Regions from separate parts of the Homo sapiens genome. Here region 1 is linked to region 2. A link means that fine-mapping ties the variant in region 2 to the expression of a gene that starts in the linked region. Tissue or cell type: blood mononuclear cells. Region 2 holds a variant in brackets; the other region holds the start of a gene. Each region is shown on its reference strand, or each on the opposite one.

Region 1 (5,331 bases), not on the chromosome of region 2:
GACTCTGTCTTAAAAACAACAACAACAACAACAAACACAACACAACAATCTGCTAGTATTTAACCCTAAGGCAAACAGTGCCTTCCATATAACAGGCAGTTGAGTAAGTTAATGATTTTTAGTTGTCAACAAAGCTAAAGAATAAAGATGGCCGGACACGGTGGCTCATGCCTGTAATCCCAGAACTTTGGGAGGCTGAGGCAGGTGGATCACCTGAAGTCAGGAGTTGGAGACTAGCTTGGCCAACATGGTGAAAGCCTGTCTCTACTAAAAATACAAAAAAAATTAGCCGGGTGTGGTGGTGGGCACCTGTAATCCCAGCTACTTGGGAGGCTGAGGCAGGAGAATCGCTTGAACCCTGGAGGCACAGGTTGCAGTGAGCCAAGATCACACCACTGCACTCTAGCCTGGGTGAGTGAGACTCCGTCTGGAAAAAAAAAAAAAAAAAAAAAAAAAAGAATAAAGACTACATTTACACTGATGGATATATCAAAAATGCTTTGACTAATTTAAGTAGCTGGCTTGCATTACTACCTAAACTTTTAAAAAGATCAAAAGGACATTAAATGAACTCAAAGATGCTCAAATATTAGACCAACAAATTCTTAAGCAGAGTGTTTTTCAACTTTTAGAGTTTCTAATATAATGATAAAGACTGCACTCTCCTTCCCTTTGACCTTTCTTTAAACCCTCCTCCACTTCCTCTATTGTAATATAAAAAATTTAGCCTAATTCTAATATCCTTTAATCAAAAGATGTAATTAATATTGCCCTATAGCAATTCATAGATTTACTGGGTCAACCAACTTTTCTTAAGACAGGACTATCCATCAGGCTTTCCACAATTCAAGCCTTCCTGCCCTGACCTAGAAGCCATTGGAGGCCTTTGCCCCATTTGTTTCATTCTTCAACTCTGAAGAATTAGGAAATAATAGGTGGCTGAGGAATTCTTCAAAGTTTTAAAAAATTAACAAAAGGAACTGATCCTCATAAAAGTCAGGTGTAAGGCCTGCAAACTCAAAAGGAAGTCAAATGAAAACCATTATGTGATTCAATCTATATGGTTATGCCTGGCTAACTGACTGACTTTACAATGGTACTCTGTGATCACTATAAACAACCCTCTCTCAACAATATGGACTTTATTTCTTTGCGACTGACAATCCATTATCTTTCATTTGGACGATTCAACATTGGAGCTAAGATTATTGCTTAAGTCGCATGTCTAATCTCTCCCACTGAACTGTAAATCCTACTAAACTGTAATCTCTACCTACACTAGAAAGCAAGCACCATGTCTTATACTTGTTTTAATATTCTTCCCCCATTTCATGCACAGTGCTATGCACTTAGCACCTTAAGAAAGATTAACTAGGAAATATACTCATTTTTGATGTCCATTCCTAGGAGTTTATGTGTGATGGGGGATAGGGCTGGGACATGAAATGGTTTGCTATAGCGTTCTCTCCTCTTAGGAGGAAGCTGGTATCTAACGTTTAGGGTGGGGAGGAGAGCCTGTTATCGAGGTGGTGGTTGTTTTATGTTTAGGGAAACCAAATATATTGCCTGGCTAATTCAGAGGCAGGGTGAGCTCAAAGGGTGGAGACACTCAGGGTCTACTTCACTCCAACCCTCCTCGGTGCATTTCAAACAGAACAAGTTTCTCTCCGAGTCTTTTAGTCGTTTCAGAATGAACTGAGAGATCTGGTCTCTCTGCCGGCCGTTCTGCCCGCTTTCTGACACAGACTTTCCTCTAAGCCCTTACCGACTTTTTCCTCTGGCTGTTGCTTTTCCACTCTCTTCTTAAGAATTTTCCCTGCCTTTTCCTGTGATTTGAAGCTTATCTGAAGCCCAGTATCCTAAGACTAACGGAGAAAGGAGCCGACTCAAAGATACCACACCCCAAGGGGGGCTTTCGACATCTCTGCCTCAGACCACAGTTCACAGACCCCAGAAGAAGGAAAAGGAGATAAAAACCGGTGATGACCGAGATCCCTGAGGGACTGACTGGTGGCAGGGAGCAGACAAAGGTGGCAACATGGAAAGGAAAGCCTGGCTCCCGCTCCAACTGCAAAAGGAGAAAGATAAAGGATGGGGTGGAAAGGCTGGGACTGGAAAAATGTGGAGAGGGCCAACAAGGGGCATCTGGAGACGGGGGAAGAAGGGGGTTAAGGAGAGGGGCGGAGAGAGGCCAAGAGGCTGAGAGGTTAGGGCTTGAAAGAGGGCGCCGGCGAGCAGGAGAAAGCCCAAGAAGGAGTCGGAGGTTGGGGAAGGAGGAGATAAAGGAAAAACCCCGGGATGGAGTGAAGACGGCGGCAGCAAGCAACTCACCAGAGCCCAGGGAGAGGCAGGGCTGGGGACGGCGGAGAGCCGCAGACGCCCCTTCGGCCAGTAGTCTCGACTTGAAGGCTGGCGAAGCCCCGGCGGCGGCAGCCAACGAGCCAAAGACGGGAGGGGACGCGTGAGGGACTCTGAGACAGGGGGCAACAGGCGGTTACGGGTGAGGACAACAGGAAGCGTTCCAACTGCCGGAAAAGACGCGAGCGCTGAGGGGCCAAGGCAGCCCGGTCCCCCGCCGCGGAGACGGGCTGGCGCGGCAGCCCGGGGCCGAGACTACGCATGCGCGACTTCCCGGAGCGGCCGGGATTGCGGAACTGCGCTTGCGTGGCCCCGCCCTGCCCCTCCCTTCACCCCCTGCCTAGGGCTGGCTGGACCTGGGTGAGGCCAGATGTGTGAGTGTGAGGCGGTCTCGAAGTAGGCTGGGCTGAGGGGGAAGTTCCATTGTTTTCTTTTGTTTTACTTTTTACTTCGAAATAATTATGGACTCACAAGAAGTTGCAAAATTAATACATACAGGTTCCCTATACCATCACCCACCCAGCTTACCTCAACATTTTTCTTAAGATACAACATTCTCAAAGCCAGGAAATTGACATTCGCACAATACAATTAACTAAACCAATACAATTAACTAAACCAATACAATTAACTTCATTACAGACCACACTCGGATTTAACCTGTTGGGTATGCAGTCATGTGCGTGTGTGTGAGTGTGTGTGTAGTTCTATGAAATGTTGTCACCTGTATAGTTCCCACCCACCCCCCTACCCCGTGTAGAACAGGTCTGCTGGAGCCCTTGGCCCCCCTCCTCTTCCTTAAAGTAAGGACCTTACCTGGGATAAGGTGAGCTCTCATAGGTTTGGGAGGTTACCCAGCGGGCGACCCAGTGTGGACAGAAGAAGGTGCTTTTCAAGGCCACCCAACTCTTATTCTGTACTACTTTTGGGGGTAAAGAGGTCCCAAGTTTAATAGCCTTTGGGCACTTGTCGTTTCTTGAGAATGGAGCACAAAGCCCTCAACTACAAAGTGTCAAGCTCCTGGAAACTAAGATGAACGAGACATGGTCCCTGACTGCCTGCAAAGGGGCCATCTAGGGAGAGAAGGAAGCATGTGCTGCGAGTTATTCATTCATTTCATCTTCAAAGCCCAGTTTCCTTTTGTCTAGCCTCTTAACAAAAATCACTTCTCGCCAGGCGCGGTGGCTCCTGCCTGTAATTCCAGCACTTTGGGAGGTCCAGGTGGGAGGATAGCTTGAGCCTAGGAGTTTGAGACCAGTCTGGGCAACATAAGGAGAATCCACCTCTAAAAAAATTTTTGTAATTGGCCAGCATGGTGGCAAGTGCCTGTGGTCCCACCTACTGTGGAGGCTGAAGCAGGAGGATTGATTGAGTCCAGGAGTTCAGGGCTGCTATGAGCCATGATCATGACACTGCACCCCAGCCTGGGCAACGGAGGGAGACCCTGTCTCAATCAGTCACTACATACATATCAATCAATCACTTCGCCTTTCATTCTCTCTGCCCAGAGGCCCTTCTCCCCAAATGCCTGTTGTCAAAGTCCTACCCATTCTTAAGCTTTTAATAATAGTCCAAGATGTCTGCATAATGCTTTACAGTTTACAAACAACTTTCACTTATTTAATCTCACTTGGTCCTCACTTTGGCAGTGACACACGAGGTTTTGCAGATGAAGTAATTGATACTTAGAGAAGCTAAGTGACTTGTCTGAATTCCCACGGCTAGTAAGCCAAGTAGCCAAGAGGGGAACCCCATTTTCTGTCTGCAAATCCAATGTTCTTTCTCCTCTTCTCTTTCCTCCTTCCAAAGCCCAGCTCAAACCTTATCTTCCTCCTGGAACTTTCCCAGTTTCAGAAGAGGAATTTCACTCTCTCTTCTCTCTTATATATATGTTTTTTTTGGTGGGGGGAGGGGGGTTGTTTTTGTTTTGTTTTGAGACGGAGTGTCGCTCTATCACTAGGCTGGAGTGTAGTGGCACGATCTCGGCTCACTGCAACCTCCACCTCCCAGGCTCAAGTGATTCTCCTGCCTCAGCCTCCTTAGTAGCTGGGACTACAGGACTACAGGCACGTGCCACCATGCCCAGCTAATCTTTTCTTCTTCTTCTTCTTCCTCTTCTTCTTCTTCTTCTTCTTCTTCTTCTTCTTCTTCTTCTTCTTCTTCTCCTTCTCCTTCTCCTTCTCCTTCTTCTTTTTTTTTTTTGAGACGGAGTCTTGCTCTGTTGCCCAGGCTGAAGTGCAGTGGCGCGATCTCTGCTCACTGCACGCTCCGCCTCCCGGGTTCACACCATTCTCCTGCCTCAGCCTCCCGAGTAGCTGGGACTACAGGCGCCCGCCACCAAGCCCGGCTAATTTTTTGTATTTTTAGTAGAGACGGGGTTTCACCATGTTAGCCAGGATGGTCTCGATCTCCTGACTTTGTGATCTGCCCGCCTCGGCCTCCCAAAGTGCTGGGATTACCGGCGTGAGCCACCGCGCCCGGCCTTTTTTTTTTGTATTTTTACTAGAGATGGGGTTTCACCATGTTGGCCAGGATGCTGTCTATCTCTTGACCTCGTGATCTGCCCACCTCCGCCTCCCAAAGTGCTGGGATTACAGGCGTGAGCCACCGCACCCGGCCCTTTCCTCCTATATTAATTTATCTGTACCACAACTCAAATAAGCACTAAAGTTTTCCTCAAAACAGCCCAGCCAAATTATGCTGCTCTTTCTGCAGGAACCCAAAAGGTGACATTTTACCAAGATTCCAATAACTATAATGGACGTTTGTCATTCTTTTTGGCCACTTGAGCATCTGAATCCCTTTCCTATCACCAAAACTGAAATCACTTATACCCATCCCAGACTGTGAGTTGGAAATTAGAAAGATCTGACCTGCATAATTTTGATGTTGTCACATCCCCGTGTTTGTTTGTTTGTTTGTTTGTTTTTTGAGACGGGGTCACCCAGGCTGGGGTCACCCAGGCTGGAGAGC
Region 2 (5,374 bases):
TGGAATTTGAGAATGCGTGATGGGAGTGAAAACCAGCAATCGGATATGGTGGCGGCTTACCTATGCTGTTGAACCTGGATCTGGAAGTGAAGAGAAGATGAGGTGGTCCAAGCACCATTCCTCAGCCCCTCTGGGGTCATGTGATTGTGGTCACAGGACAGTGGCCAGCCTGGGATGCTGCGGATGGGGAATTCCACAGAGAGAGCTAAAACTAGGACGCTGTAGGGGCTCCGCTCTGCCACCGTCAGGCTTGGGAGCTCCTGGGAGCGCGGGGCATGCATTTCAGTGGCAGCCTCATTTGTCTTCCTGCACAATCCCGCCAGGGACCTCAGGGTCTGCAAAAGAGTTGCAGAGGGTCACGGCTCAAGCCAGGCCCCAAAGTAGGGCTGTGGGGCTCACCCTTAATCTGGCTGCACTCTAGACATTGTGGGCAAAGGAGATAGGGAATCTGCTATCGATACAGGGCTTCTACCAAGATCTGTGACTAAACCAGGCCATTTCCCAGCTGCTTGTCTCACACTGCAGCCCTCTGTCCCTCAGACATCCTGCCCCTGCTTAACTCTTCTACCAAGTGTCACTGTGCTTCGTACTAGAGATTCTACTTAGTTTACTTTCTTTCTTTTCCCGGTCTTTCTTCCCCTCTAGAATCCAGGCTGCCGGGGGCAAGGATTCCTGTCTGCAGGGCTCACTGCCCACTTCCTTAGAAAGATGCCTGGCACAGAGCAGGGCTCAGCCAAATACTTGTTTGATGAATGAACAAAATCCCACGCGGGCCAAGGTGTGTCTTCTCTCCCCATCCGGAGGAGGATGAGGCTTAGCGGTCCGAACAAAGGCCAGACGCCCTAATAATGCTTTTCTTGTGAACTTACAGTTTTTGTGGTTTCTTTTTCCCCTACCCCAACGGAACTGCAAAAAGTCTACACAATGAATCATAAAGGAAACTCTTTGGGGATCAAATGAAATTCTTTTTCAGCCCAGAGCGTGTTTCCCATTTTGATTTTCATTTTTATTTTTTTCACTTAAGGCCAGGAGTTCAAGACCAGCCTGGGCAACAGTTTTCTTCCTTCCTTCCTTCCTTCATTCCTTCCTTCCTTCCTTCCCTCCTTCCCTCCCTCCCTTCCTCCTTTACTTCCCTCCCTCCCTCCCTCCTTCCTTCCTTTCTTTCTTTCTTTTTTGTCTTACTCTGTCACCCAGGCTGGAGTACAGTGGCATGGTCATGTCTCACTGCAGCCTTGACTCCCAAGCTCAAGGGAGCCTCCCACCTCAGCCTTCCGAGTAGCTGGGATTACGGGTGTGCACCACCACACCCAGCTAATTTTTAAATTATTTTTGTGTGGAGACAGGGTCTCACTATATTGTCCAGGCTGGTCTTGAACTCCCTGGGCTCAAGCAATCCTCCCACCTCAGCCACCCAAAGCTCTGGAATTACAGGCATGAGCCACAGTACCTGGCCTATTTTCCCATTTTTAATGAAGCCTTTTACACAAACAAACCCATATGCCTATCCTCAGTGGCTCATGGGCAGGTTCTAGCTACCCCCTGCCTGCAACTCCAGCCCCCTTTCCCTGATGGTCTCTGAGAGTTTTCCTCAATCCCCTCCAAGAAAGATCAGCTTCCCCAACCATCCATCCCATCAGAACCAGTTACATAGTTTGTGGGGCCCAGTCCAAAACAAAAATGCAGGCTTTGCTCAAAACTTATGAAGAGGCCAGGCATGGTGGCTCATGCCTATAATTCCAGCACTTTGGGAGGCTGAGGTAGGAGGGTCTCTTGAGCCCAGGAGTAAGAGATCAGTCTGGGCAACAGAGCAAGACCCCATATCTACAAAAAAAATTTTAAATTTAGCTGTGCATGGGGGCACACACCTGCAGTCCCAGCTACTCAGGAGGCTGAGGTGGAAGGATCTCTTGAGTCCAGGAGGTCGAGGCTGCAGTGAGCTGTGATCACACCACTGCACTCCAGCTTGGGCAACAGAATGAGACCTTGTCTCTATGAAAAAAAAATAAAGAATTTCAAGACCCTTCCAGCATCATGGATGGATGGTGCTTCCTGGCCCTTTGTGGGCAGGTGGGCTGTGAGCTGGTCCTAGCTCTCAAGCCGTGAGTGGAGGTGACATGGCTCGCTTCTGAGCTGGAGCAGTTCTCCGCTGCTTCTAGACTCCACTGCACTCTCTGTGCCTGACAGTGTTTGGGACCGTAGCTGCACCACCTGCCCAGACCCTTCCAGACTACACTGAGCAGAACCCCCTCCCAACCTGGCTTGGACATTGGAAGCACAAGCAGAAAATAAAGTGTTTTTGGAAGTTCTGAGGACCAGGGCATGACTGTTGCTGCAGCAGGATGTAGCCCATCGGACAGATACTCCAAGGCAACGGAAAGACTGAAGAACAAACCTGGGCCTCAGGCTGAAGCCCATCCCCTGAGTCTGTGCCAGCAAGAGACCACACATTCATTATGCATCTGTTCATCTGGTGGGAATATTTACTGAGGACCTGCTAAGTGCTGGGCATGGAGCTCAGTACCGGGGACATGGCCAAAAATAGGCAGCCTCAGTCTCAGCTGCAGAGGAGCTTCCTCCCAGCCGTTCACACACAGTTAGAGTCCATGGAAGGGAGAAAATCCTGCGGCAATAAGTACGCAAAGTCCATGGCATTGTGCAGCCATGTGGCGGAGGGGGGCCTGTCCTCACCTGGGTGCCAGGGAGGGCTTCTTGGAGGAGGTGCCCCATTCATTCATTTATTCATTCGTTCAACAAATGTTGAGAGCCTGTTCTGAGCCAGACCTAAGCAGGCCTCTGTGGAAGGGGTTTAGCAGTGATCAAAATAGTGTGCTGTTCTCCTGCACCTTGGGATGCAGGGGAGGGAAAGAAGAACCCCCCCACACACACACACACACACATTCACTCCCCCGTCTATGGACTCACAACCCACGCTACACACATGCCATGCACATGCACACACACGCACGCACACACACATGCACACACGCATGCAAACATAAAATGTGAGGAGGAAAGGGATGTTCTAAAGGGAAAGAAAGCAAGGAAACCGTTACATTAAGGAACAGGACTCGAGAGGGTGCCGCAGGAAATGGTCCAGGTTTTCCCCCAGTGCCCCTTCAGACCTGCCCTCTGGGTGTGCAGGAGCC[G/A]GCTCACCCAATTCACACGGGCTCACCAGGACTCAGCTCACCCGAGCCAATTGTATCTTCCCAAGTATGCATTCAGTGACATCACCCTGGGAGCTTAAAATGGGCCATGATGGGAAGGTTTACACCTCCGCAATTGGCAAACACTCTAAGTCAGCTTTCATGTGTTTTCTTTCCAAGGGCCAGTTTACCCACCCACCACTGTCTGGGGCTGGCTCTTCTCAGCCCCTTGGGTAATTCTAGGGCAGGCCTCATGACTTCCTGGTCGTCTCATAATGAAAGCTTTCCCAGCCACTTTTAATCACAAAAACATGGTCTCATGTGGATCACTGAAATGTCCAGTCCCACGCACGTCTTCACTGAAAACCGTCATCTTCCTGGCTTCACCGGCCCAGCCAGCCCCAGGCTGAGGCCTCGGAGTGGGAAGGGGGCCGAGGGCCCCTGGCTCTGGGTCTCTCTGCTTCTGCTTCTCTTCCCTCTCCCCTCCCCAATCTCTAGGCTTCCCCCGGACCCTCCAAGGTTGGGGAGAGGCCAGCAGGGCAGGGAGGTCAGGCTTGGTGGGCGGGCGCTAGGTGATCTGGTGGGCTTCTATCCCCCCAGCTGGGGCAGATGTTTAAAGCTGACTCATTTGAGGGTACTCTTGTGGATTGTTTAGTCCATGGGGTAATGAAAACATCCAAATTGGACCCCATGAGCACATGTGTCTGATAGCGAAAGCTTGGGACCCCTCACTCCTGCCAGTTCCTGCCCAACAGCCCACTTCCTATCCACAGGAAATCCCCCACACCCTTCTTCCATCCTCACCACCCACCCTCATCATCTCTGCTGGTGGTGGGGTCAGTTCTCACTCAGGACAGCCGCACTCCACTGCACAGGACACTTATGCCACCCTCTTGCCAGATGCCTTTGAAGAAAGAGTCAGACTGGTCCACCCTCCCCCAGCCCCTGGGGCTCCTTGAGCCTCTCTCCAGCCTTGGCAGGAGGAGGAAAAGCAGCACCTCCCTCAGACAGCTGGAAAGGCCCTCTTCCTTCCCAGCTCAGTGGGTCCGGCCAAGGGTCACCAGACGGGTATTTGTCCCCACCTCCCTACCAACCCCAAGAACACACTCCACACCCCTCTTCGCTGCTGCGGTGTGAAGCTTCAGCCTAACCCAATCCCACAGAGTCCATCTCGACAGCCTGGGATGACATGGGTTCCCCAGAGGGGGACAGAGTGCTGGGTGTGGGTGCCAGTTTAGACCCAGGGGGCAGACTTAGAGGAAGCCTCCCAGAGGTGTCTCAGCAGAGAACTAAACCCAGAAACAAGCCCGAAACGCATTCCCATTCTCCAAGCATCAAAAGGCTGGACTATTCAAAACAAACAAAGAGCTAACCTTTTTAGAAAAACAGGCCCAGTGACCATTCAGCCTCTCATTCGTAGTCATCGTTCGCGGTCGTAACTGCTACTTACCGAGAGGTGCTTCGCTGCGGGCGTCGGGCTGGGTGCGTCCTTTACAGACAGGCCATAAGTGAGCACGTGGACTCGCTGTGGGAATTCATATTTCTTCTGCAAGGAAGAATGACTCATATCCAAACTCACTCAGCTGCCAAGGGGGAGGAGGGATTCGAACCCCCATCTTCTACGCTCCCAAACGCATGCCCATAATCCTCCTGTCCCCATGGAATTATCTAGTGGAGAAAAAATATTGATCAGCAAAAAGAGAAAGAAAAATGATAGAACTTCCTAATATGCCAAACATTGTCATCCCGCTTAAGACTAAAGCTCTGTTTCATCCTAAACTCCAAATGCCAACGTGCTCACTGACTTGACGAACGTTGGTTAGGCCTCGTGCATGCGAGGGAGCGTGGTGGTTGCAGGGGGCTGTCGTGACCTATACTTTTCACTCCCACCCCTTCTTTTTCTTTGTAAAGCTATATACCAACTTCAGTTTTTAGAATAAGGAGAGTGCTTTTTGTTGTTGTTGTTTCTTTTTTTTTTTTAGCTCTATCAGAAGAAATTAAACAGAAACAGAATGGAAAATAAAGTGTATTTTTAAATAAACTGAGGACGTGGTTCCCATTGTCCCCCGGAACCTGGTCCATTTAAAGCGGCCTCATTATTTTTAATGCATCCACTTCCTGGTCCCTCTCTTCCTCGGTTTTTCCCATGTCGATCGTCTGAGAAATTCCAGCGGTGACATTTGTTAAACATCAGCCCAAGGCTGGGCAAGGCCTCGGGAGCCAGGCTCTTG

What was found.
Region 1: it holds the start of STK38, and the variant in region 2 is fine-mapped to the expression of STK38 in blood mononuclear cells (TOPMed, PIP above 0.99).

Annotation. Positions count from the first base shown.
Region 1 is chr6:36,544,859-36,550,189 of GRCh38, forward strand. STK38 (serine/threonine kinase 38) reads right to left here and starts at 2,621. Exons shown (of 14, transcript NM_007271.4): 1 at 2,332-2,621. RefSeq lists an enhancer at 2,156-2,679 and a silencer at 2,427-2,766.
Region 2 is chr11:70,016,367-70,021,740 of GRCh38, forward strand. It overlaps a transcript of ANO1 not described here. Among named protein-coding and RNA genes, the nearest start is that of LINC02753, 46 kb to the right of the region's middle. The variant G/A (reference allele first, on the strand shown) is at 3,147.